Homo sapiens: one gene and its partners. The protein of the gene in region 2 interacts with the protein of the main gene of each other region in a biochemical or structural test. Each region holds a gene or a part of one and is shown on either strand. Other genes may lie near its edges. The genes, in order: ATP2A2, HTRA3, PPFIA1, RAPGEF2, PLXNB1, RNF146 and CD226.

Region 1 (3,500 bases), on a different chromosome or scaffold from region 2:
TTATCAATACATTGTCATGGGGCAAAATAAATGATACATTTGGAGCTAGTGTAAGATTTGTATTTAACTGGGTACATAATAGCGTTGGCAGTTAAATAATGGGGTCCGATAAGGTCATTGGGAACTTCTTAAAAATTAATCAGCTGACTACAAGCCAGAAGCAAAATACATTTTTACTGAATTCTCTGTGTTACAAGTTGAAGCAGTGTGGGAAACCATGCCACTGGTGTTACTATTGGGGTTGCACTGGGTCTGTTTTTTGAGTGGCCAGTTTGAGTGACTTTATATTAGCATTTTAAATTAATGATGTGTGTGGGTTTTGTTTGTTCATTTTTTACTTTGAAGTAATTAGAGGCTTATAGTTTGTAAGCATTTCAAGCAGGTTTTTAAATAAATGCTTTAATTTTTTTTATAAGATAGGACCTTGGCTTTGTGGAGCATTATAGAGCTATATTTTGGAGTTGAAATTTGAGCTCCTTTTTGGTAACTGTGGAGTTACTGCTCAGGAAATGAACTGTGTTACATTTTTATTTTATGAGTTGGTAAATAGCAAAAGAATAAGTGTTTAGGGAGTACTTCTATAGAATTAATTTGCTTTGGTTTGTTTGATCAAGGAATTGCAGATATAAGACCTGTTGTGTTGATTTTCTTCATGTGGGGTTGGGTACTGCTGCTGCATTGTCTTTAGTGTTTCATTCCTCCTGTCTGTATCTTTTAAAAGAAAGAGCACTGACTCTCTTTTTGTGTCAGTTTATTCCTATTGATGTAACAGAAAAAACATGGTAGAATATTCAGGTTTTTTTGGAGAAGTGACTAGGCGATTCTTATATACATCATGCGTCATCAAGTCATGCTTAAATTAAAAAGAATATTAGTGACTTACTTCAAATATCAAACTAAGTAGTAAACTGTTAACTATAGTTAATATTTTGCTGTGGCATAGAATAGGAAGCTATGCTTGTGACCTGTAGGGATCTAGTTTAATTTGTAATATTGGCCAAAGTGTTTTTTTGAAACGGTCACTTGGATTGAAAGAAATAAGCTTCATCTTCCAGTGCATATGAACATTAGAAATTGCTTAATTTGACACTGAAGACCCCCCCTCTATCATTCACTTTATCTTTTCATTCTCTTCTTGATTACCAACTTTGTTCTAAATGTAACACATCGTATGGTTGCTTAACTGATGCCTGCCCTTTCTTCTCTTTTCCTGCTTTGTTAAGATATTTATTGAGCACCTGTCACAGACACTGGGGATACAGTAGTGAATAAAACAGACAGAGACCCTTACCTGGAGGATAATACTGCTGAGAAAAATAAAGCAAGGGGGTTTGGATATCAGAGTATGTGAAAGGGGGAACAGTTTTCAAATTGGGTGGTCCGGAAAGTTCTTGAGGAAGGTGACATTTGCGAAAAGATCTGAAGGAGGTGGGCATTAGGGCCATGTTGGTCTCCCATCTGTCTAAATCATAAAGTCATAATTAATATGGTAATAATTTGCATAGGTTTCTCTACCTTCCACCGTCGTTTCCCATGTCAGCTACTTAGATTGACCCTAAAATGCTAATAAAACTTTCTAGACTGTGGTACTTCTCAACCTTTAGGTTACATTTGACCATTTGCATGTGTGTGTCTCTTTTCTTCCTACTAGACCCCCTTGAGTTAGTGCTTTTTTTTTTTTTTTTTTTTAAATGTAGATGGAGTCTCACTCTTGTTGCCCGGGCTGGAGCGCAGTGGTGCAATCTCGGCTCACTGCAACCTCCACCTCCTGGGTTCAAGTGATTCTCCTGCCTCAGCCTCCTGAGTAGCTGGGATTACAGATGTCCACCACCACGCCCGGCTAATTTTTGTATTTTTAGTAGAGATGGGGTTTACCTTTGTTGGCCAGGCTGGTCTCGAACTCCTGACCTCAGGTTATCACCTGCCTCAGCCTCCCAAAGTGCTGGGATTACAGGCATGAACCACTGCGCCTGGCCTAAGTTAGTGCTTTTGATGTCACAAAAACTTGGGTGAGTTTGTTTCAGTAGAATTTTCTGAAAATACATGAGATCTTTTTACTGTAGTTTCTCAGAAGAGAATACTCAAAGCATTTGATACTGGATTTGTAGTGATTTTAATTTTCTTCTGTATCTTTTAATTTTTGATTTTAAAAATGGGATAAGAAGGGCAAATTACTGATTGGTTTAACTAGTTTATTCAGAGCTTTTCTTAAAATAATGACTTGAAAGGTGGATTTAATAGAGTACTTTTTAAAAAGATTGTTTTCTCATGCCTGAAAGCATTGAATGTTTTTACATAGCTTTATATCTGGATCAGAAGGGAACGAGTTCTAATTCATGCTTTTTTTTCCGTTTTATTAATGACTGAAAGTCCTCCCCCAGAAATTATCGTAACGTTTATTGGTAATTCTCTGTATCATTCTCGAAATGTTTAATTTCCATTTCCTCTTTATTTAAAAAAAAAAAAAAACTTGATGTAAATTTCTTCATTTATTGAGCAATTGTTTGAGGGCCCAAAGGCACAGTGCAAGTTTCTGAGAATACTAGGAGCAAAATGTGCTTATGATCTTTTTAAGCACTTTTTTCTTTCGTTTTCTTTTTATGATACTAAGAGCTCTTCCTATTATCACAGTGTATAGATATCTGAGTCACAATATCATGACTGTCTCCCAGTTTACAGCAGAACGTGCTTTTTACCTTGGATTAAAATTTGCTTTATTTGGCCGGGTGCAGTGAGTGGCTCATGCCTGTAATCCCAGCACTTTGAGAGGCCGAGGTGGGTGGATCATTTGAGGTCAGGAGTTCGAGACCAGCCTGGCCAACATGGTGAAACCCCACCTGTACTAAAAATACAAAAATTAGCCAGGCGTGGTGGTGGGTCCCTGTAATCCCAGCTACTCAGGAGGCTGAGGCAGGAGAATCGCTTGAACCCGGGAGGCGGATGTTGCAGTGAGCCGAGATTGCGCCACTGCACTCCAGCCTGAGTGACAAAGTGAGACTCCGTCTCAAAAAAAAATTTTTTTTTTGCTTTAGTATACTTATCAGAAGTATAATGCAGTACAGAGTGTTGTACAGTATTTCAGTGCTGTACAGAGATTAATCTTGTGGATAATAATTGGGAGATACTCTATCCCTACTCTATTTTTAACAGTTTAATGTAGTTGAGTGTTCATTAGCAAGTGGTTACTTTGAATAATACTGGCACATTTGAAGCATTGAACTTGTTTGATAATGTATGTCCCAGAAGACAGGTATTATTGTATTTAGCACAAAGCAAAGGGAAGAAGAAACACTGTTTATGTCCAAAACTATGGGGCAGTGGTCTTCTCTTTTACTTTTCTTTGCTGCTGTTCATGAAGCTTGTTACCTTTTCGCTGTCTTTTTTTTGAGACGGAGTCCTGCTCTGTCGCCCAGATTGGAGTGCAGTGGTGCGATCTTGGCTCACTGCAACCTCCACCTCCCAGCTTCAAGTGATTCTCCTGCCTCAGCCTCCCGAGTAGC
Region 2 (3,500 bases):
GACATTGCCACCATCAAGATCCATCCCAAGGTGGGTGGGCGTGGGTGGAGGGGCGGAAGCACCTGGGGCTGGGCATGGTGGCCTCTTCCCAGACGCCGGAACCCAGAGGCAAGCTAGCCCCACCTTCCATCAGCCAGGGGGAGGAAACTGGGCCCAGGGAGGACTGGCAGCTGGCCCAGGGTCACGGCTTGGAAAAGACCTAGAACCCAGGTCTTTGGACTCCTTGTCCTGCGCTCCCTGAGCCGCTAGGTGCAGGGCAGAGCCAGGAAGCATGTGGCCCACAGTGGGTGGGCTGTGGTCCCATATCACACCCCACGGAGGCTCTTCACTGTCTTACCTGGGCCCACTACTGGGGATGCACCTGCCCCATGGGATGGCATCTGGGTTTGGGCGTGGAGGCCAGGGGGCTGCCGTGGGGAACACTTGGGACAGGGACCCCATCCCTCCACCTTCACGTCTGTACCTCCCACCAGCTGACCCAGAAGAGGCCTGCACTGAGGCCCCCAGAATCCTCTTCTTCCTCCACCGGCTGTTTCTGGAAGGCCTGCTCTCAGCCAGGCGCTGACTGCACTCCTCTAATTCTCACCACAGGCCTGGGAGGAAAGGGCCTGTATGAGTCTGTTTTCACACTGCTATAAAGAACTACCTGAGACTGGGTCATTTATGAAGAAAAGAGGGTTCGTTGACTCAGAGTTCTGTAGGCTGTACAGGAAGCATGACCAGGAGGCCTCAGGAGACATACAATCATGACGGAAGGCAAAGGGGAAGCAGGGACATCTTCTCATGGCAGAGCCGGAGAGAGAGAGAGTGAAGTGGGACATGCCACACATTTTAAAACCATCAGATCTCGTGAGAACTCACCACCATGAGAACAGCATGGGGGAAGTCTGCCCCCATGATCCCATCACCTCCCACCAGGCCCGTCCCCCAACACATGGGGATTACAATTTGACATGAGATTTGGGTGGCGACACAGAGCCAAACCATATCAGGGACCTCATTATCTTGGGATTTCAGACGGGGCAACTGAGGCTTGGAAGTTAGGTAACTCGTCCAAGATCACAGCGCACTGGAGCAGGGCTGGCCCGCTCAGCTAGGACCCCGGCCTCCCTCCAGCTTGTTCTTGTCTTGCCCAATGCCATGCTTATGTGACCCTGGGGACCACAGTTGAGTTACTTGCAGCTCCCCATGCCATGAGGTCACTGAGTCCCATGTCTCACACCAGCGTTGGACCCGGAGCTTCCCTTGGACTGGGAAGTTCACCTTGGCTGGTTTGAATTTGGCTTCCTCTCTTTCTGAATGAACGTTTACAGCATTTGTGATGAAATCTTTTGCAAGGGGGTTTCCTCTTGCCCCATCAAGGGAGAGGAGATTTAATGGTTCCAAGGAGTTCCCCTAATGGGGACCCTTCCCTGCTTTTCAGACTTTTCACGGTCGCGATTGAGTCTGGGGGCATCACCTCCATTTTAAAGTTAAGGAAACCCACTGAGGGGTGTGCTCACGGACAGGAGTTGGCAAATTTTCTTTTCTTTTTTTTGAAATGGGGTTTTGCCCTTGTTGCCCAGGCTGGAGTGCAATGGCGTCATCTCGGCTCACCACAACCTCCGCCTCCCGGGTTCAAGCAATTCTCCTGCCTCAGCCCCCCGAGTAGCTAGGATCACAGGCATGTGCCACCACACTGGCCAATTTTTTTGTATTTTTAGTAGAGACGGGGTTTCTCCATGTTGGTCAGGCTGGTCTTGAACTCCCAACCACAGGTGATCCACCTGCCTTGGCCTCCCAAAGTACCGGGATTACAGGCGTGAACCACCGTGCCTAGCCTTTTTTTTTTTTTTTTGAGACGGGTTCTTGCTCTGTCACCCAGGCTGGAGTGCAGTAGCAGGATCTCGGCTCACTGCAACCTCCACCTCCCAGGTTCAAGTAATTCCCCTGTCTCAGTCTCCCAAGTAGCTGTGACTATAGGTGCATGCCACCACCCTCAGCTAATTTTTGTATTTTTAGTAGAGATGGGTTTCACCATGTTGGCCAGGCTGGTCTTGAACTCCTGACCTCAGGTGATCCCCTGCCTTGGCCTCCCAAAGTGCTAGGATTACAGGAATGAGCCACTGCACCCCACCCCCAAATTTTCCTTCCTTCCTTCCGTCCGTCCTTCCTTCCTTCCTTCCTTCCTTCCTTCCTTCCTCCCTTCCTCCCCCTCTCTCTCTCTTTTTTTTTTTTTCAGGGTCTCGCTCTGTTGCCCAGGCTGGAGTGCAGTGGCACAATCACAGCTCACTGCAGCGTCAAACTCCTGGGCTTAAGGGATCTTCCCACCTTGGCCTTCCATATAGCTAGGACTACAGGCATGCACCACCATACCTGGCTAATTTTTAAATTTTTGGTAGAGATAGGGTCTCGCTGTATTGCCCAGGCTGGTCTAGAACTCGTGGGCTCAAGCAATCCTCCTGCCTCGGCCTCCCAAAGTGTTGGGATTACAGGTGTGAGCCATGGTGCCCAGCCAACAAATTTTCCATGAAGCCAAATGGTAAATATTTTATCTTTGCAAGCCCTGTGGTCTCTGTCACAACCACGCATCTCTGCTGTGGCAAAAATGCAGCCTTAGGCTGCACAGGTGGGTGTGGCTGCGTTCCAGTGAAGCTTGATTCACAAAACAGGCAATGGACAGCGTTTGGGCCTTGGGCCAGTTTGCAACCCCCGCTCGAGGACCCCTGTGGGAAGAGGAGAGCGAGACTAGGGGCAGGTCTGTCTCCCCTTCCGGCGGCTGTGGCAGAATGCTGGCAGGACTGGTGGGGTGGTATCCAGGTGGGCCTGAGCAGGACGCCCCACCAGCCACCTGTGGCAAATGGGTGCCAGCAGAGCTAGTGTGATTCATGTCCTGCAGGCCCTGGTCAGCACCCATGGCCATGAGCTGAGGTGGGAAACGCCCTCCTAGCCCCTAGGCATTAAATCGAGCCATGGGAAAGGCTCCTGACCCTCACCTGTGCCCCCTCCTTGGGTGCAGGGAGGATGGCTGACCCTCCCCAGCTCACGGCCTCACCTGTGCACCCTCCTTGGGTGCAGGGAGGATGACTGACCCTCCCCAGCTCATGGCCTCACCTGTGCGCCCTCCTTGGGTGCAGGGAGGATGGGCTGACCCTCCCCAGCTCATGGCCTCACCTGTGCGCCCTCCTTGGGTGCAGGGAGGATGGGCTGACCCTCCCCAGTTCACGGCCTCACCTGTGCACCCTCCTTGGGTGCAGGGAGGACGGGCTGACCCTCCTCAGTTCACGGCCTCCCAGAGATTTCAGACGTTATTTCTGCCTCTTCGGCCGGTCAGCAATGGAAAATGTCATCTCTCCGGGCCCTCACCTTCCAATGTGCAGGCCTGGTTCCGCCACCTGGCATTCTCTCTGCCATTGACTGAAGCTTCTTGAGCACAGAGAATAGAGGAGCGGCCTGAGTCTTTCCCACACCAGCGCCCGCCCACCAAGGGCTCCCGTAATCCTGTGCGGGGCTCCACGTCG
Region 3 (3,500 bases), on a different chromosome or scaffold from region 2:
GGAGTTTTGCTATCTTTACTTATTTCTCTTATGTAAGGTATTTTACACTCATATTCAATTTTTTGCTTTCAGCTAATGATTCTTAAAGAACAGAATAATCAGAAAAAAACTCTAACAGATGGAGTGCTGGACATAAACCATGAACAAGAAAATACACCAAGCACGAGTGGAAAGGCAAGTCTGTAGGCTTTGTCTTTATTCTGTTTGATTTCATTTGTTCACAGTATGTGTCGGGTTATGTGGAAAACAGTTGCTAAAGTACCGGCTTAGAGCTGAAGTGGTCATGAAAGTTGTGTAATCCAACAGATTGCATAAGTCAGTTTTGATTTTAGCTATTTCCTGGAAGTATTTTTATTTTATAGCTCACCAAACAAGGGTATTTAAGGATTTTTTTTTCCCCCTATCAGAGATCTTCTGATGGTTCTTTAAGCCACGAGGAAGACCTTGCTAAAGTAATTGAGCTCCAAGAAATCATAAGTAAGCAGTCAAGGGAACAGAGCCAAATGAAAGAACGCCTGGCTTCCCTTTCCAGTCATGTGACAGAACTGGAAGAGGATCTGGACACGGCTAGAAAAGATCTCATCAAATCTGAAGAAATGAACACAAAATTGCAACGAGATGTCCGTGAAGTGAGCAATAACAAAAACTACAGTCTTGTCATGAAGTTGTATGTTTGGGACGTTTTAGTTAAATGATTTTTTTTCTCTGTTTGTCTCTTACTCTCCCAATTACTTTCAACCTTTGGATTATTGTATAAGTTATATTGAAAAAGAGAGAGTGCTGTGAAACTGCCATAAGCTACCTCCCCATTTTTGTTGTGAAATCTCCTGTCCCTGAGCTCTTCAAAGTAGAGAACTAGTCCCACTGACTGACATGGCCATGAAGTGGACGCCACACTGGCCTCTCCTACCTGTGCTGCTTTAATATTCTTTAATGTCCTTGTTTGTAGATTCTTCATCTGTGCAATTTCTAGGCTGTCTTAATTTGTTCTTATGTTCAGATTGCCTTCTGTTGCACACATACTTAGCAAGCAGATATTGATACTGGCTGTGCTAGCTCACGTAGGGCAATGTGAGTATAGTCTCTTAACTGTGGGAGGGGGCGTTGCTGGCGGTCTTCTCATTTTCTGACCTGCTCCTTCAAGGAATTTGTGGCGTTGAATATTAATGGTCAAACAATCAAGAGTGGAATTTGCTTCTACATGGGTCATCAGGATCGTATAGCAAAAATATGTCACAATATACTCATTGCTGACAAATATTTCTGCCATTATAACTGTGAGAAACTATTTGATCATGAATGCCGGGCGTGGTGGCTCACGCCTGTAATCCCAGCACTTTGGGAGGCTTAGGCGGGCGGATCACGAGGTCAGGAGATCGAGACCATCCTGGCTAACACGGTGAAACCCCGTCTCTACTAAAAAATACAAAAAAATTAGCCAGGCGTGGTGGCGGGCGCCTGTAGTCCCAGCTACTCGGGAGGCTGAGGCAGGAGAATGGCGTGAGCCCAGGAGGCAGAGCTTTCAGTAAGCCGAGATCGGGACACTGCACTCCAGCCTGGGCGGCAGAGCGAGACTCCGTCTCAAAAAAAAAAAAGAGAGAAACTATTTGATCATGAAACAGTGAGGCTGAGTGCTTTCTCAGGTGCCCTTCCTGTCACTTTCTAACCTGCGCTTTGTCCCTTGTCAGGCGCCTCAACCGTTGAATGTCTGCTTTTCAGTTTGGTAGTTTGACGTTGAGTAATTTCATGTAGGAATTCACCACAGGAAGAACATTTGCATGTAGTATGTCACCTAAGGTTCTATTCTTTGGCTACAGCAGGAGATTATGTGGCAGAGATTAATATGCAGAGAATTTTGAAATTCTTTTAAGACCTATCACTTTTATTTTTTAATTTTTTATTTTAACTTTTAAGTTTGGGGTACACGTGTAGGTCTGTTACATAAGTAAACTTGTGTCCTGGCGGTTTGTTTTACAAATTATTTCATCACCCAGGTACCAAGCCTAGTTATTTTTCCTGATCCTCTTCTTCCTCCTATCCTCCACCCTCCACCCTTTGATAGGCCCCAGTGTGTGTTGTTCCCCTCTGTCTGTCCCTGTGTTCTCATCAGTTAGCTCCCACTTATAAGTGAGAACATGAGGTATTTTGTTTTTCTGTTTCTGTGTTTGCTAAAGATAATGGCCGCCAGCTCCATCCATGTCTCTGCAAAGGACATGATCTCATTCTGTTTTATGGCTGCATAGTATTCCATGGTGTATACGTACCACATTTTCTTTATGGAGTCTATCATTGATGGGCATTTAGGTTGATTCCTTGTCTTTGCTGTTGTGAATAGTGCTGCAGTGAACATACGTGTGCGTGTGTCTTTATAATACAACGATTTATATTCCTTTGGGTATATACCCCGTAATGGGATTTCTGGGTTGGTATTTCCATCTTTAGGTCTTTGAGGAATCTCCACACTGTCTTCCACGATGGTTGAACTAATTTACCCTCCCACCAAGAGCAGGAAAACATTCCTTTTTCTCCACAACCTCACCAGCATCTGTTACTGATTGACTTTTCCACAATAGCCATTCTGACTGGTGTGAGATGCTGTCTCATTGTGGTTTTGATTGGCATTTGTCTAATCGGTGATGTTGAGCTTTTTTCCCCTATCACTTGTAATATTTAGACTTTGCTAACTTTAGTCATTTTATAAATAGGGAACAACTTGAAAATAGTGAATTCTGGGGGTGGAGGACAGGTATTTCTCAAGCAAAAAGTTCTGGTCCTAGCCTTAAGTGTTTGAAACTGTATAGTAATCATCTTGTAGACTTCAGGTAGTTGCATCCAATTAAATTAAACTGGTACTTCTGTTTCCATTTGTCAATATGCTTGAGTCTTGTAATTGTATGAGAGTTCATCCAACCCTTATCCTAGAAAGTGAGACTTGTATCTCACTACTGTGTCCACTGAGAGAGGCCGCACCCTGTCCTGTGTGAGACCATTTGTAGCGTGAGGCAGACGTAGACTGCGTCTTCTTTGAGGACACTTTCACCTCCTTGAAAAATATTTAGATATTTGAGTGTATATATTTTTATAATATTATGTAGAAACAGGAAAGCTTGGTCAACTGAGTGGCCAGACATAGTATTAAGAGAGACAAGTCTTTGTTAATCGTATAGGTGAATATTTATGGTATTTGAGGTAGTTACATTTTCATTCACATTTGAGAAAATTGACATCTTCATCAATTTAATTTTGAGGACATTATTATTTATTTATTTATTTTTGAGACAGGATCTCTCTCTGTTACCCAGGCTGGAGTGCAGTGGCGCCATCATAGCTCACTGCAGCCTTGAACTGCTGGACTCGAGCAATCCTCCTGTCTCAGACTCCCAAGTACCTGGGACTACAGGGGCGTGCCACCATGCGTGGCTAATTTTTGTTTCTTTAAAATGTTTTTGGCCAGGGACACTGGCTCACGCCTGTAATCCTAACACTTTGGGAGGCCAAAG
Region 4 (3,500 bases), about 150 Mb from region 2:
AGCAAGCAAGTAATTTCTTGTGCTATAGAGAATATATTCACTGATGTGCTAAATAAAACTATCATAGTTATTCTTTTTAGTATAGCTCACTTAGAATCCTTGTCTTTTTTTCCTAAACAATGACGAACAACAAAAAGGTTAAAATGTATGCAATACATATCTTTACATATATACACACAATATTAAAAAGATATGCATTATATATTTTTGTTCAGAAAGTTGTTAAATTCATTTTAAAAAGTTGTAAAATAGCATGTGCCATTTAAAAAAAATATACGATCAGATACACATAAAAAGTCTAGAATATATAACAACATTTTAATAGTGGCTATCTGCAAGTGACAGGATTTTAAGTAATTTTCATTTGTAATGTTTTTCTATTTATTTAATTTAATTTAACTTTTTTGAGACAGGGTGTGGGTTTGCCATCCACAGTGCAGTGTTCTCGGCTCACTGCAACCTCCGCCTCCCGGGCTCAAGCGATTCTCCTGCCTCGGCCTCCCAATCTCCCAGTCACGTGTTGCTTTTTTCTATGATTGTGTAATCAAACATGTTAAACTGAAAACTTTAAAGAAGATGGGAGGCCATGTTCTCCTTCCTCATTCTCAATTCAGCATGGTCAGATAGATTTGTAGAAAGAACGCACAAAGAGTTATAAAGAATGTGGGTTCCTTCCTTCCTTCCCTTTCTCCCTCCCCTTCTCTCTCTCTTTCTTTTAGAGACCGGGTCTTGCTCTGCTACCTAGGCTACGGTGCAGTGGCACAATCATGGGTCACCACAGCCCTGAACTCCTGGGCTCAAGTGATCCTTCCACTTCAGCCTCCATAGTAGCTAGGACTATTGGCACACGCCACCACGCCTGGGTCATTTGAAAAATATTTTTATGGAGACAGGTCTCACTATGTTGCCCAGGCTTGTCTCGAACTCCTGGCCTCAAGCAATCCTCCCACCTCAGCCTCCCAAAGTGCTGGGATTACAGGCATGAGCCATCAGGCTGGCTGATAATGTATCTTTCTTTATCAGACTTTCATTTCCAAATGAGTCCCAATTCATTAAAAGCGCAAATATAATGTTTCCACAGAAAACTTTAACCATCCACCTTTGAGAATCCTACATGCTTCTAAAATTCTTGACAACAGCACAAACTTGTGAAATTTTCATTTTCTTTTCCTTTTTTTGAGACAGAGTCTCACTCTGTCACCCAGGCTGGAGTGCAGTGACATGTTGTTGGCTCACTGCAACCTCTGCCTTCCGGGCTCAAGTGGTTCTCCTGCCTCAGCCTCCCGAGCAGCTGGGATTACAGGTGCCTGCCACCATACCCGGCTAATTTTTGTATTTTTAGTAGAGACAGGGTTTCACTACTTTGGCCAGGCTGGTCTCAAACTCCTGAGCTCAAGTAATCTGCCCTCCTCAGCCTCCCAAAGTGCTGGGATTACAGGTGTAAGCCATCGCACCTGGCCTATTCTTTTTCTTAAAATAGGGTCACAGAAGTACTTCAATTTTAACGAGAATTAGAAAAGAAATCAAGTCATATAAACACTGTATTTTAAGTGACTCCCTCCATAATCTTTGGGATTTTTTAAGCCATTTAGGGAAACACACATACACAGACACACAGAAAGCAATCAAATTTTAGTGAGAATTGGAGAAGAAAACCAGTTATATACACACTGTATTTTAAGTGACTCCCTCCATAATCTTTGGCATTTTTAAAGCCATTTAAGGAAACACACACACACACACAAAAGAAAGCAGTCAACAGCTGTAACCCTAAATTTGGAACTCTGAATGTAGTGTACTTTGTGTAGTATATGGTTAGACATAGCTGACTGCAGTGTTAAGAGAACAGAAATGCCTTGGGAAGCAGCACAAGTGAACACATCTAACTTGGAGGTTTTAGGAATATTTATGTGCATATACCATCCTCCTCGGTGGAAAACCCTTGGGACTGATAGGGGGCGAGGCGCGGGTCAGACTCGTTCGGTTTATGCCACTGAGGTTTGTTCACAGGCCTGCTGCTGGTGGGATGCCCATGTGGCTGCTGTACGGATGAAGGCCCAGCTGTGTCGGAGGATCGTGCGACCATCCGCGATCTCTGAAGGGCCACGTTGTAGTCCGGCGGTTTCCTGGCTGGATGGGAGTGCCCTTCTGGAAAGTCAGTAATGGGAATTCCAATGTAGCCGGGAGGGGTGGGCGGGGGCTCTCGATACCTGCCCTCCTTTCGTGCTAGAGTAGAAACAATGCACCAGCATTAAAAACTAGTTCATGCCACAAAAGTTTATTAAAAATATAAAAATAATTACTAAAACAGCATCCACAGTGTAGCAGCAGATGTGCATTTGCATGGTATCGGTTAGAGGTGCGGTGTGAGGCAGGCCAGGGAATGCATGTTAACTAAACCAAATTTCACAATGATGTTATCTTTGTGTGGTGAAATAATTGGTGAGAGAAGCTGCTAGTCCATCTAAGTACTTTTATCTTTAAATGGGCTGCTTGTCCATTTAAAATGGTCTGTAACTATAAAATAGTAAGATTAAAACCTAACCCCTGGATTTATTGGAAAGACTGAAGCACAGGAAGAACCTAAGTACACAGCACTATGCCTAGAACCTGTTTGTGCTTGGTACAAGTTCCCTTTTTCCTCTCTGCCTGCCGGATCTGCCCTCTTTCTGGGCATTTATCTTTACCAGGCAGAGAAGCAATTCTACATCACTCTCGGGTCTCAAGACTTCACTTACAGAAACAGTGAATTAAAATAAATTTGGAAAAGTCGCACAAAGGATACCAATTTAAAAATTCTAAAACTATTACTATAAGGTGTCTATTTTTCTTAAAATCCCTTTATTGATGCTCATGACCTAGAATATGAAACCTGTATAGGCCAGTAAAACTAAAGTTTCATTTTCTTGAACTTTTAAAACTCAATTGTTAGGAACTAAAAATCATTCTTCCTTCCTTTGCAATAAAAATTCTGAGTATTAGTTGTAAGCACTTGAAAAAGTCCAACCTAAGAATATTTATTAACTGTTTTCTCCTTATTCATTGTAAAAGGATATTAAACTTGAAATCTACCCATGACTATTTACATGGCTAAATAACTACAATTTTCCTACTAATAAAAGTAATGTCCGTAATGATTATACTCCAGAATTTCTCACTCTACAACCTATCATCTGTTCCTACACTTCGTCTATATAGATGTTAATTGTGCCATAGAAAACACATCTCAACAGGACTGAGGGCGCATGAGAGCCTCTTCTAACAGGAACAGCAGCAGCAATAGCTTTCATGTACTTAGTGAATCTACTATCTGGGCACTGTTCTAAATACTTTGCATAAATTTCCTTGAATCCTCACACTAACTCCATTAAGTAGAAATTATGAAGCTCATTTTACAGATGAGGAAACAGGCACTGTTTTGTATTTTACCCAATGTCACAAAACTAATAAAGTGGCAAAACAGGGATTCAATCCCCAGTCCGCCTGACTCCTAAACCCGT
Region 5 (3,998 bases), on a different chromosome or scaffold from region 2:
GTGTTCAGTCTTGGGCAGTGAGCATGGCCCAAATGCCCCCCACCCCAGGTTCTCAGCACCTGGTCCCTCAGTCAATCTATCCTTGGCGAGTAATGGCTCCCCAGAATGGCATGGGATGGAAAGACCCCTGTGCTTAGAGTGTTCACATTCCTTGTAGGGCAGGAGGTAGCGTATCTGTGTACAGATGAAAGGGGTTGTGGGGTTTGGAAGTCCCAGTTTCCTCTGGGGTGAGATAGGTCCTGAAGTGTGTGCTTGGATGAATGGATTTGGGGAGGGAGGGATTCTGTGCATGTGGAGGGGGCTGCTACAAGCTACATAGGCAGGAAAGCCAAAGTGGGTGAGGGACTGGGGCAGACTGTCCTGGCTGGGGTGGTGATGGGTGTGGGGGAGTTGTGCAGAATGATGTCACAGGCCCGGGGTGCCAGGTTGGCAGTCTGAGGTCAGAGGCTAAGGGTGAGGGATCCAGGGAGGGATTGCTATGCTGGTGCAGACAAGGTGCTAAGCACCTGGACTCAGGTGCTGGAAGTGGGAGTGGAGGAAAAGGGGTGACCTGACAGGAGACCCTTGATAGCTGGTGGGAGGTGGGAAGAGGGTGTCTCTAGCTCTAGGGCAGTAGCCAGTGTGGATGACCTGAACCTCCTGATTGAGGCTCCCCTAGCCTGTGGAGGCCTTGGAGGCTTTCAGATGATGCCTGTGACGTTTTTGCCTCCCAGGAAGCTGTGCCAATGGCTTTGAGCCAAAGTCCTCCAAAAGTCCTAATAGGATGGGCCAGGTTCTGGTCCTGAGTTAGCCGTGGGCATGCCAGGGTGTGAAGGGCCCTGCACAGGGTACAAATGGTCCCCAGGAGAGAACCTTTCTGCCAGCGTTTCCTCCCGCAGAAGGCCCAGGTGTTTGCCAGTGAGGGAGCCCAGACTTGCCCAACGCTTCTCAGCTTGGGGTGGGTCCAGGTCTGGGTCCTGGGCTGGGAAGAAAGGAAGGAAGTGAGCCCTTGCTTGTGCGCCTCTGCAGCCCAGGTTCCCTGCCTTCACAGCCCCGCTAGAGGTGGGATCACCCCCACTTACTGGTGAGCAAATAGGCTGGGGGGGGTTGGTGTCAGGTTACATGGTTTAGTTGATGGCGCAAGCCCAGGTCCAAAGCCCATGCTCTTCTCAAACAGCCAGAGGTGGGGGCCGGAAGGAGGGATTGGCTGTTGGGGAGTAGTGGGAGCAGGGGCGGTGAGCAGGGGCGGTGGGCAGGGCCAGGTGCGCAGGGGAGAAACAAGGCGCCTTGGAGTTCAGGTAAAGAAAGTTGGGGAGGATGACCACCGGAGCCGGGTAAGGAAGGGAAAGGGAGCTCCGGGCGCGGGGCGAGGCCGGGCGCTGGCAGAAGAACGGGTCGGGCTGGTGAGGGACTCGGGTGCTACCCGGCTCTGGACGGGCGGGAAGAGGCCGGGACGCTGTTCCACCAGCACCTGCGGGTGCGGAGCGCGACCCCCCGCCTCGGCTCCTGGCAACCAGGAAAGTTCCCAGTTCCGGTTCCAAGGAGGCGAGCAGGTGAGGCCGACGGGGCGGGGCGGCTCTGGCTCCCGGGGTTCACTCCTCACCCCTCCGGGCGACCCGCGTTGCCATGGCGACCGCCGCGGTGCAGCCCGCCCCCGCCCTCCCCCGTGCGGGAGGGGTCGGGTCCCCAGCCCTCGGCCGATGCGGAGCCCGCGGGGCTGGAATGCGGGGTCCCGGGCGGTTCGGGGCCGCGCGCCCGGCTCTCCGGGCTGCTTCCGGCCTGGCCCGGGCGGCGGGCGGGGGGAGGGCAGCCCGGCAGGCGAGGGGGAAGGAGCGGAGACGAGCCCGGCCGACGCGGCTTTGTCTCCTTTGTTCCCGGCGGTGGCAGCGCCGCGCGGGAGGGGCGGGCAGCGGGCGCAGTTTTCCGCCCCTCGGTCTCCGGGTAACAGCTGCGGCTCCGCCAGACCCGGGGAGAGGCCGCTGCGCGCGGAGCCCGAGCCCGGAGCGGCCGACGCCCGCCTCGGCGCGCACATCCCGCGGGGCCCGGCCGGGTGGTGAGTGCGGGGCTCGGGGCCAGGGCGGCGAGGAACGGGGCTCCCGAGGTGGAACGGGCCGGGGCCCCGATCCCGCCGGGCAGGGGCGGCCTGGGTGAGTGGTGGGCGGCTTTGGTTTTGAGAGTTGGGACCACACTTCTCCGCGCGAAGGGAAACTCTGGCGACTCCGCCTGGAACGCGATTGGGAGACTGAGGAGGTGGAGCTGCTCCTCCGCGCCCCCTCCTCGCCGTCGCCGCCGGGGACCGGCCGGCCCCTTCCCCGCCCTCCCAGGGCCAGTGATGGGGTCCTCGCCTCGGGGTCTGGGGGTTGGGGAGGGTCAAGGACGAGCCGAGTGGGGAGGTCGGGGCTTCCCCTCAGTAGTAACAGCCCTTTCTGGCTGCTCCCGGTGGGACTGACAAAGGCGGACCTCGAGCCTCCTGACCCCCGGGCGGGTGGGGGGGACCCTCCTCTCCACACACAGACATATTAAGTGGGTGATCGATGAGCGCCTTGGGTCATCGCAGGTGCCTGGTAAATGGTGGATCTCCCCACCCCTCCTCAACACACAGAAAACAGGGCGGGCAGCGGGCACCACTGCACTGTCAATGAATAACTCACCTCTGTAGTGAACCCTGGGAGCTGAGCAGGAGGGTGAAACGGGAAGGCCGGTTTCCCACTAACTGGCAGGCAAGGCAAATGTGGGCTGTCCTATGGCCCCTCTGCAGGTGCGGAATGGCGGGGTTTGTGAGCCCCTTTTGTTGTCGAGGACAGCTCCACGGGGGTCCGGGAGGTGCTTGCTCTACAGACAGAAGTTGGGCAGTCTTGCGCCCCCTGAAAAGGTTCAGAGTAGGGTGGCCCCAGAAGAGACTCCAGGGCATGTGTGGGGGAGCACTGGGCACAGGCAGAGTTAGGCTTTGGCTGTGAGTCTGAGCAGGGCCTCAGATATTGGGAATGGGCAGGAGATCCTGGCTGTGTAAGTTGGGGATGTGAGGTCTGGTTCTAGATCAGCCTTTTCAGTCTGCCCTGGCCTGGTCATTAATAAAAGTGGGGCCAATGTGTTCCCTTTGAGAGACCAAGTGGCTTGGAGGGATTGTGGGCCCCCTATCTCCCCTACTTGTTGGGTTTTCTTGGGTGTGAAATGGGGGTTCGTTCACCATACAGGGAGCATCTGGTCTGTGCTGAAGTCTGTGTAAGTTGCTGGGGCCTCTGAATCAGAAGCCATACTCCCTGCCTTCAAGGAGCTTCAAGTCCAGAGTAGGAGGGTGGAACAGGGAGAAAGGTGACCCTGGTTGGCATCACTAATGCCAGGCACACACTGTTTCATGTTTACTGGTCAGAGCAATCCTGCCTCCCATTGTACAACTAGGAAATCTGAGGCTCGGAAAGCCTGAGGCAGAGCGGCCGTGCCTGTCAGGGTGGTGGCTAGGTGTGTCCATTCTGTCCACCGCATGCAGCGGCCTCCTCAGGAGCCTGGGAGGACAGGGGAGGCTCCCCAGGGAGAGGATGGTTGGTGTAGGAGTTAATGGGATAGCGAGGGAGTGGGCATTCCAGGCAGCGGCAAGAGCCTGTGCAGCGGTTGGAGGAGCCAAGCAGCCTGCAGTTCAGGCTGGCAGGAACGAAGGGCATGTGTGGGGGAGCACTGGCATGGATCGGGTGGGAGAGGTGTGGACTGGAGGGGTAGGCCTTTATCCCTCCCGCTCTGGGGTGCCCCAGAGGCTCTTGGGGGAGGGGTGTACTCAATTCTGCTCAAGGAAAGTCCTGAGAAGTTGGGAGTTGGGAGGCTAGATTGGAGGGGCTGGGAGCTGCTCAGTGGCCTGTGGCAGAGATTAAGTGAAATCCATGTGCCTGAAATGGAGGAGAAAAAGTCACTGCTCTTCTTTCTGTCCTCCTTCCGACACCCATGGTATGTGTGGAGGGGCAAGGGGTGCTAGGTCCTGATTCACAGGGAGACTGCTGGCAGAAGCCTGACCACTTTCCCTGGAGTGG
Region 6 (3,500 bases), on a different chromosome or scaffold from region 2:
GTGCCACTTGAGGTGGTACAAGAAATTTAAACAAATGTAAAGATGCAGTATGAATCATAGCTGTATAAAATTAATTGTAGTACATACTGTAATAATTTCCTGTTGCTATTATGAATTTCCACTTAAAATGCTGTGGACACTAATCATCTCTGCATGTATTGGAGTAAAATGTAATCTCTTGTTCTTGTGTATTTTTCATCATGTTTAGTACAATACCATAAACCTTGAATAACACCATGGGACCCATGTGAAGTGCCACTAGTGATGCTAGAAGTGCTCCCAAGAAGCCAAGAAGTCATGCCATTACAAGAAGTTAAATTACCTGGTACACACCCTAGATGGGTCTGCAGCTGCAGTTACCCATCATTTCAGACAGACACCTTATAAACAGGTAACATAAACACAGTATCGGTAAATGCAGTACTGTAAATGTATTTTTTCTTCCTTAGGAATTTATTTTCCTTTAGCTTATTGTAAGAATATAGTATGTAATGCATATAACAAACAACGTGTTAACTGACTTTACAGTAGGCTATTAGTAGTTAAATTTTGGGGAAGTCAAAACTTATACTCAGATTTTCAATTGTGCAAGGGGTTGGCACCCTTAACCCCATGTTGCTCAAGGGTCAATTGTACTGCCCTCTTATTGTCTTTGAGCATTCTTTTATTTCACCTCTCATTATGCATTATCTTTCAAAAATACATTTGCGTAGAACAACACAACCAGGTTCTTCTTGGCTGAGATTTAGCCATCTTATGCAACCAATAAAAGTGACTCCAGATAAAAGCAGACAAAAAACTTAACAGATGTAAACAGGAATCCTACAGCAGCCCTAAGAGTCCACAGTTCATATAATTTTAGTAAATCTTGCATGCTTTGGTGACTTTTTCAATTTCTATATCCTCATGAATAATTTTTTCAAAGTGCAGACTAACTGGATAAATGCTGGGGAAGGAAAATGAATTAAAACTAACATAATGCTCTAGATCCTAGCTATACAAACAAACTGGGATTCCCAACTAGTACTATCAGCACTACCTGGGAGCTCTTCACAAATGAAAATCCTAAGTGCCACCCTAGACCTACAGAACCAGATCTCCAAGTGATTCACATATATTAGTTAGTGAAACACTACCAAATCCATATGTCACTGAATCCTCAAAACAACCCTGTGAAATATGACTATACCTATTTCACAAATGAGGAAGCCTAAGCTCAGGAAGTTAAATGACTTACCCAAAGTCAAAGCCATCAATATTGGGAGATGCGATTCAAATTCAAATTTACCTTTAAAAATGTCTTTCTACAATGTATTGTCTCTCACAGAAAAGGTCACGTATTATCTAATAGAAATATGATGCAAGCCACGTATGCAATTTCAAATTTTCTATTAGCCACATTAATAATAAAAAGAGGCAGGGCATGGTGCCTCACATCTGTAATCCTAGCACTTTGTGGGTAGTGACACAGGAGGATGGCTTGAGCCTAGGAGTTATAGACCAGCCTGGGCAAGATGGTGAGACCCCCATTTCTACAAAAATAATAATAGAAAGAAACAGGTAAAATTAATTTCAATAATATATTTTATTTAATCCAACGTTTCTACATTACTGCTTCAGTATGTTTCAATATAAATTGTTAATGTAATATTTTATGTTCTTGGGTAAGCGTATGCATACTTCTTTGAAATCCAGTGTGTATTTTACACTTACAGCACAACTTAATTCAGACTGGATACATGTCAAGTGCTCAATAACTCCATGTGGCTAGTGGCTACTTTACTGGGCAATGCTGGTCTAGAATGTCTTGCATATTAATCTTGTTAAATACAAAACTGACAAGTCACTACAGGAATTGTTTAATAGAGACAATGAATTCAATGTTAATTTACCTAGACTTTTGCCGAAGACACATTAAAAAAGAAAACTGCATATTCTGTTATAATCAAAGTTAATGGGTTTAGGTAGCCCCAATTCTGCCAAACTGACCCATCACCTATTAACTCTCAGAATTTATACAGTTGACCCTTGAACAATGTGAGGAGTTAAGAATGTCTACACCCTGCGCAGTCAAAATTCCATGTAAACTTTTGAGTTTCCAAAAACTTAACTACTAATAGTCTACTATTGCCTGGAAGCTTTACTGATAACATAAACAGTGGATTAATATATGTTTTGTATGTTGTATTATATATTGTTTTCTTGCAATAAACTAAAAAAAAGAAAACATTATTTAAAAAATCGTAAGGAGGCCAGGTGCGGTGGCTCACGCCTGTAATCTTAGCACTTTGGGAAGCTGAGGCAGGAAGATCATGAGGTCAAGAGATCAATACCATCCTGGCCAACATGGTGAAACCCCGTCTCTACTAAAAATACAAAAATTAGCTGGGCATGGTGGCGCACACCTGTAGTCCCAGCTAATTGGGAGGCTGAGGCAGGAGAATCTCTTGAATCTGGGAGGTGGAGGTTGCAGTGAGCCAAGATCGCACCACTGCACTCCAGCCTAATGACAGAGCAAGACTCCATCTCAAAAAAAAAAAAAATCATAAGGAAGAAAAATATGTTTACATTCATTAAGTAGAAATGGATCATCATAAAGGCCTTCATCTTTTTCAGGAGGACGAGAAAGAAACATTGGTTTTGCTCTCTCAGGGGTGGCAGGGGCAGAAAAAAAAAGTATTGTATAAGTGGAACTACACGGTTCAAACCTTTGTTCAATGGTCAACTATAATTTCAACTGGGCACAAAATAGGGCATACATGTAATACTTATAACAATCATGTGAAGAAGCCCTCAGAAAACTCCCACATTATTTGAAACCAAAGTTTTTTTAAAGTTGGAGGAGAAGGGATGCTTTTATTTTAACCAATAGGGGGATGTAAAACAGAACAGTATGATTTCAACTACAGGCCAGAATTAATTTGCCAAACATAAATAACTCAAACATACATAATTCCTACTGGAATGAATGACCTGTAAATTTTACACCAAACTTAATATGATGATGTATGAAGAAGGTAACATAAAAAAAAGAAAAAGTCTAAAACCAAATTAGATACTTTGCCCCTAACAATTCTGGAGGAAAAAAACAGTGACAGGTAAAACTTAAAAATACACAAAGGGGTTTAGGGATTATCAATGAATTTAAATCTTGACCCATTCAAATAAGTGAAAAATAAATACAACTAAAAATGAAGTAATATTGTACCATTTATAATTTGTAACAACTCAAAATACTCATACTCCCACTTTTCAAGTCAGTCACAAGATCAAAGTCAAGAGTTTTTTTCAGGTAATAGATTCAAGCAAGCGATTATCTTTAATCAAAGAAAAAGATGAGCATATAACATCAATATAAATACATATAAAAACAAAGACAAATATCAATTATAAATATTTGAAGACTTACTGTATTTTTCTAATTATTAACAGCTAATGTTTAATAAGATTTTTGCCATTTATTCAAAATACACAAAACAGTAAATGTTCTACATGAAATC
Region 7 (3,500 bases), on a different chromosome or scaffold from region 2:
GTTGAGCTGATTTATCCCACACTTTATTTTTATCGTATAATGGTCCTCAGAAGCAAATTTTGATTTTAGCTCACATAAAAAATGTACAAAGAAATGTAATGGCTCAGTAGCTTCTAGAGATAGAGATTACTCTTCTAACCTTTCTGTAATTTTGTATGTCTATTTTATAATTCTTTCAATGTCTAATGAATAGCTATCTTTTTTTGAGACGGAGTCTCGCTCTGTCGCCCAGGCTGGAGTGCAGTGGTGCGACCTCGGCTCACCGCAAGCTGCGTCTTCCAGGTTCACGCCATTCTCCTGCCTCAGCCTCCCGAGTAGCTGGGACTTCAGGCGCCCACCACCATGCCCAGCTAATTTTTTTGTATTTTTAGTAGAGACGGGGTTTCACCGTGTTAGCCAGGGTGGTCTCGATCTCCTGACCTCGTGATCCGCCCGCCTCGGCCTCCCAACGTGCTGGGATTACAGGAGTGAGCCACCGCGCCCGGCCTCCTTAGTTTCTTAAGGTGGAAGCCTAGATTATTGATTTTATATGTTGTTTTCTTTTCCAATAGTGGCACTTAATGCTATAAATTTCACTTTGTTCCACAAGTTTTGGTAAGCTCTATTTTTATTTTCATTTAGTCCAAAATATTTTAAAATTTCTTTTGATATTTCTTCTTTGAGCCATGAATTATTTACAATGTGTTGTTTAATCTCTATATATTTTGGGATTTTTCTACTTTATATCTCTTACAGATTTCTAACTTAATTTCATCATGTTTTAAAAACATTCTTTGTATAATTTCTATTCTTTTAAATTTTTCAGGTGTATTTTATGGCCCAGAATATGGTCTATCTTGTAGAATGTTTCATGTGATCTTAAGAAGAATGTTCATTCTGCTGTTGAGTGTAATATTCTACAAATGTCCATTAGATTAAACTGATTGATACCACCGTTCAGATTATCTATATCCTTTCTGATTTTCCCTCTTCTTGATCTATCACATACTGACAGATCAAGTGATCAAGTCTCGTTAAAGACTGCAAGTAAAATAGTGGATTTTTCTATTTCTCCTTGCAGTTTTGTTAGTTTTTGTCTCATGTATCTTGATACTCTTGTTAGTACATATACTTTCAGAATCGTTAGGTTTTCTTGGAGAATTGACCCCTTTACCACATGTAATGTCCCTTTTATTCTTGATAATCTTTCTTGTTCTGTCTGCTTTTTCTGATATTAACATAACTTTCAGTTTTTTAAAAAATTAACATTAGCATCTCACATCTTTATCCTTTTAATTTTAAATTATCTAAATATTTATATTTAATGTGCCTTTCTTATAGACAATGTATAGTTGCGTCTATTTGTAATTTCCCCACTTTTCTTACTTAAAAATGTTGTAGATATATAGGAGTTGTATATATTTGGGGGGTACATGTGATGTTTTGATACCTGTATACAATATGTAATGATCATATTGGGTAATCGTGATATCTGTCACCTCTAACATTCATCTTTTTTGTGTGTTTAAACCCACCACTTCTAATTGGTACATTTAGATTATTCAAATTTAAGTGATTATTGATATAGTTGGATTAATATCTACTATGTTTGTAACTTTTCTATCCTTGCACTCGTTCTTTCTTTTTTATCCTCCTTTTTCTGTGTTCTCTGATTTTAACTGGGGTTTTTACATGATTTAATTTTCTCTCGTGGCATATCTTTCATTGATCAACCTAGGTTTTTCTCCTTTTCCCCTCTTTTTTTTGGTATTTATTCTATTTAGTGTTATCTGAGCTACCTGAGTTGGTGTCTATCACTAATTTTGGCAAGTTCCCAGACGTTATTACTTCTAACATTCTTTTGCTCCATTCTTTCTTCTTCTTCAATTATTCCATAGTCTTGAATATTCTGGGTTTTTCCCACTCTTTGAATTTTAGTTTGAAAAGTTTCTATTGGCCTAGCTTCAAAGTCATTCATTCTTCCTTCGGGGTTCCAAGTCAACTGATAATTGCATCAAAGATATCCTTCCTTTCTATTACTATGTTTTTTATTGCTACCATTTCTTTTTTATTCCTTCTTAGTGTTTCCATCTTTCTTCTTACATTATCCATCTGTTGTCTATTTTTTTCATGAGAGCTCTTAACATATTAATGATAAGTTCCATGTCTGATAATTCTGACACGTGTCATGTCTCTATCTGGTTCCAATGATTGCTTTATCTCTTCAGACCATGACTTTTCTTGCCTTTTGACGTTCTTTGACATTTTTTTTGAATTTTTTGTTGCAAGCCAGATCTGGTGTGTTATGTAATAGGAACAGGTAAATAAGTCTTTAGCTTGCAGACTTATCTTAATCTGACTAACTATTAGACTGTGTTTAAAGTCTGTTATAACCATAGGTGCTAAATTTCTTCAAATTCCTCTAGTGTCTTTGTTTTGTTTGTTCATGTGTTTTTCCCCTTCTTGAGTTCAGGCTTCCCTAAGTGCTCCTCTTCAGAGAGACTTTCTGTCTTTCAGCTCTTTCCTCTGCAATTCACTGTTACTATACTGGAGCCCTGTTGGTGTAGTACTAAGCTGTGGGAAAGGAGAGTGCTCTGTAATCTTACAGTGAAATCTCAGTCTTTTAGTGGGTCTGTGTCTGGGACATTCACAGAGCTTCTCCAGTGGTATTGCTTCCTCATCCTCAACTCTCTTTCCTGGCTGCAGCATTCCCAATGTATTTCTTTGAAGGCCTGCCCCCTGTTGACTGTTATTTTCCCTCTTTCCTTAAGTGGGACAGGGAGACTTCAGGGGCTGGGATGAGGTTTGGGAATTGTGCTTGGCAGAGTCCTTTCCATCTTTGTTACCAAGAAGGTTCATGGCTTATTTCTCAATGGATGTCCCTCTCTATCTGTTGCCAGAGCCACGAGGAAATTTTTCTTGGATCCTCATAATGAGAACCTTGGAGTTTCCTACTGGAAAAGCCCTTGAATGTGTGGAGTGCCTCAAGAGCACAGCCCCCATGGGTTTCTTGCTCACACCAGTCCACAAACAGATGCCAGCAATTCACCCAACTTACCATATAAAGGCTCATACTAGTTTATGGCTCCAGTGCTTTGACTCCAGATAAATGGCTATTGGTTGCGTATCTCTCTGGATGTATCTGTATCTCCAGATTTTGGGGTGGCAGTTTGCTCAGGACCTTGGTTCTCTAATAGGTCTAATAAGAAAAGTCATTGATTTTCAGCTTTCCAACTTTCCAGCTTTGTCTTGTTATAAGCATGGCAGCAACATCTTCCATGCCTTAACATGATGACACTAAAGGCAGAAGTCGATCTCCATGTATAAACATTTTAACACATATGTTTTTTGTTATCGTGGTTTCTGACCTGTCTCTTTGCCCTGACTTTCTGATACTGCACTAGGGTTCCTGTTGCTGGACTCCATTCCATATGACTTGCTCTCGTCTAGGCTGCTCTTTGGCTCATCTTTATAAATCATGATCCAAAATGAAGCACATATTTATTTTTTAAATAAATATG

The links.
Region 1: the proteins of HTRA3 (region 2) and ATP2A2 interact in a test that uses a peptide from one of them, tested with the Homo sapiens proteins (one large-scale study listed by IntAct).
Region 3: the proteins of HTRA3 (region 2) and PPFIA1 interact in a test that uses a peptide from one of them, tested with the Homo sapiens proteins (one large-scale study listed by IntAct).
Region 4: the proteins of HTRA3 (region 2) and RAPGEF2 interact in a test that uses a peptide from one of them, tested with the Homo sapiens proteins (one large-scale study listed by IntAct).
Region 5: the proteins of HTRA3 (region 2) and PLXNB1 interact in a test that uses a peptide from one of them, tested with the Homo sapiens proteins (one large-scale study listed by IntAct).
Region 6: the proteins of HTRA3 (region 2) and RNF146 interact in a test that uses a peptide from one of them, tested with the Homo sapiens proteins (one large-scale study listed by IntAct).
Region 7: the proteins of HTRA3 (region 2) and CD226 interact in a test that uses a peptide from one of them, tested with the Homo sapiens proteins (one large-scale study listed by IntAct).

Annotation. Positions count from the first base shown.
Region 1 is NC_000012.12:110,284,247-110,287,746, forward strand, and holds part of ATP2A2 (sarcoplasmic/endoplasmic reticulum calcium ATPase 2), read left to right. Parts: intron 1-3,500.
Region 2 is NC_000004.12:8,286,754-8,290,253, forward strand, and holds part of HTRA3 (serine protease HTRA3 isoform 1 precursor), read left to right. Parts: coding exon 1-30; intron 31-3,500. UniProt on the Homo sapiens protein: Serine protease that cleaves beta-casein/CSN2 as well as several extracellular matrix (ECM) proteoglycans such as decorin/DCN, biglycan/BGN and fibronectin/FN1.
Region 3 is NC_000011.10:70,326,190-70,329,689, forward strand, and holds part of PPFIA1 (liprin-alpha-1), read left to right. Parts: intron 1-72; coding exon 73-174; intron 175-407; coding exon 408-629; intron 630-910; exon of another isoform or gene 911-1,065; intron 1,066-3,500. UniProt on the Homo sapiens protein: May regulate the disassembly of focal adhesions. May localize receptor-like tyrosine phosphatases type 2A at specific sites on the plasma membrane, possibly regulating their interaction with the extracellular environment and their association with substrates.
Region 4 is NC_000004.12:159,354,579-159,358,078, reverse strand, and holds part of RAPGEF2 (rap guanine nucleotide exchange factor 2), read right to left. Parts: intron 2,227-3,500; coding exon 1,921-2,226; intron 1-1,920. UniProt on the Homo sapiens protein: Functions as a guanine nucleotide exchange factor (GEF), which activates Rap and Ras family of small GTPases by exchanging bound GDP for free GTP in a cAMP-dependent manner.
Region 5 is NC_000003.12:48,427,287-48,431,284, reverse strand, and holds the start of PLXNB1 (plexin-B1 precursor), read left to right. Parts: upstream 1-1,198; 5' UTR 1,199-1,277; exon of another isoform or gene 1,278-1,532; intron 1,533-1,940; exon of another isoform or gene 1,941-3,998. UniProt on the Homo sapiens protein: Receptor for SEMA4D. Plays a role in GABAergic synapse development. Mediates SEMA4A- and SEMA4D-dependent inhibitory synapse development. Plays a role in RHOA activation and subsequent changes of the actin cytoskeleton.
Region 6 is NC_000006.12:127,269,864-127,273,363, reverse strand, and holds part of RNF146 (E3 ubiquitin-protein ligase RNF146), read right to left. Parts: intron 1-3,500. UniProt on the Homo sapiens protein: E3 ubiquitin-protein ligase that specifically binds poly-ADP-ribosylated (PARsylated) proteins and mediates their ubiquitination and subsequent degradation. May regulate many important biological processes, such as cell survival and DNA damage response.
Region 7 is NC_000018.10:69,853,874-69,857,373, reverse strand, and holds part of CD226 (CD226 antigen isoform a precursor), read left to right. Parts: 3' UTR 1-3,500.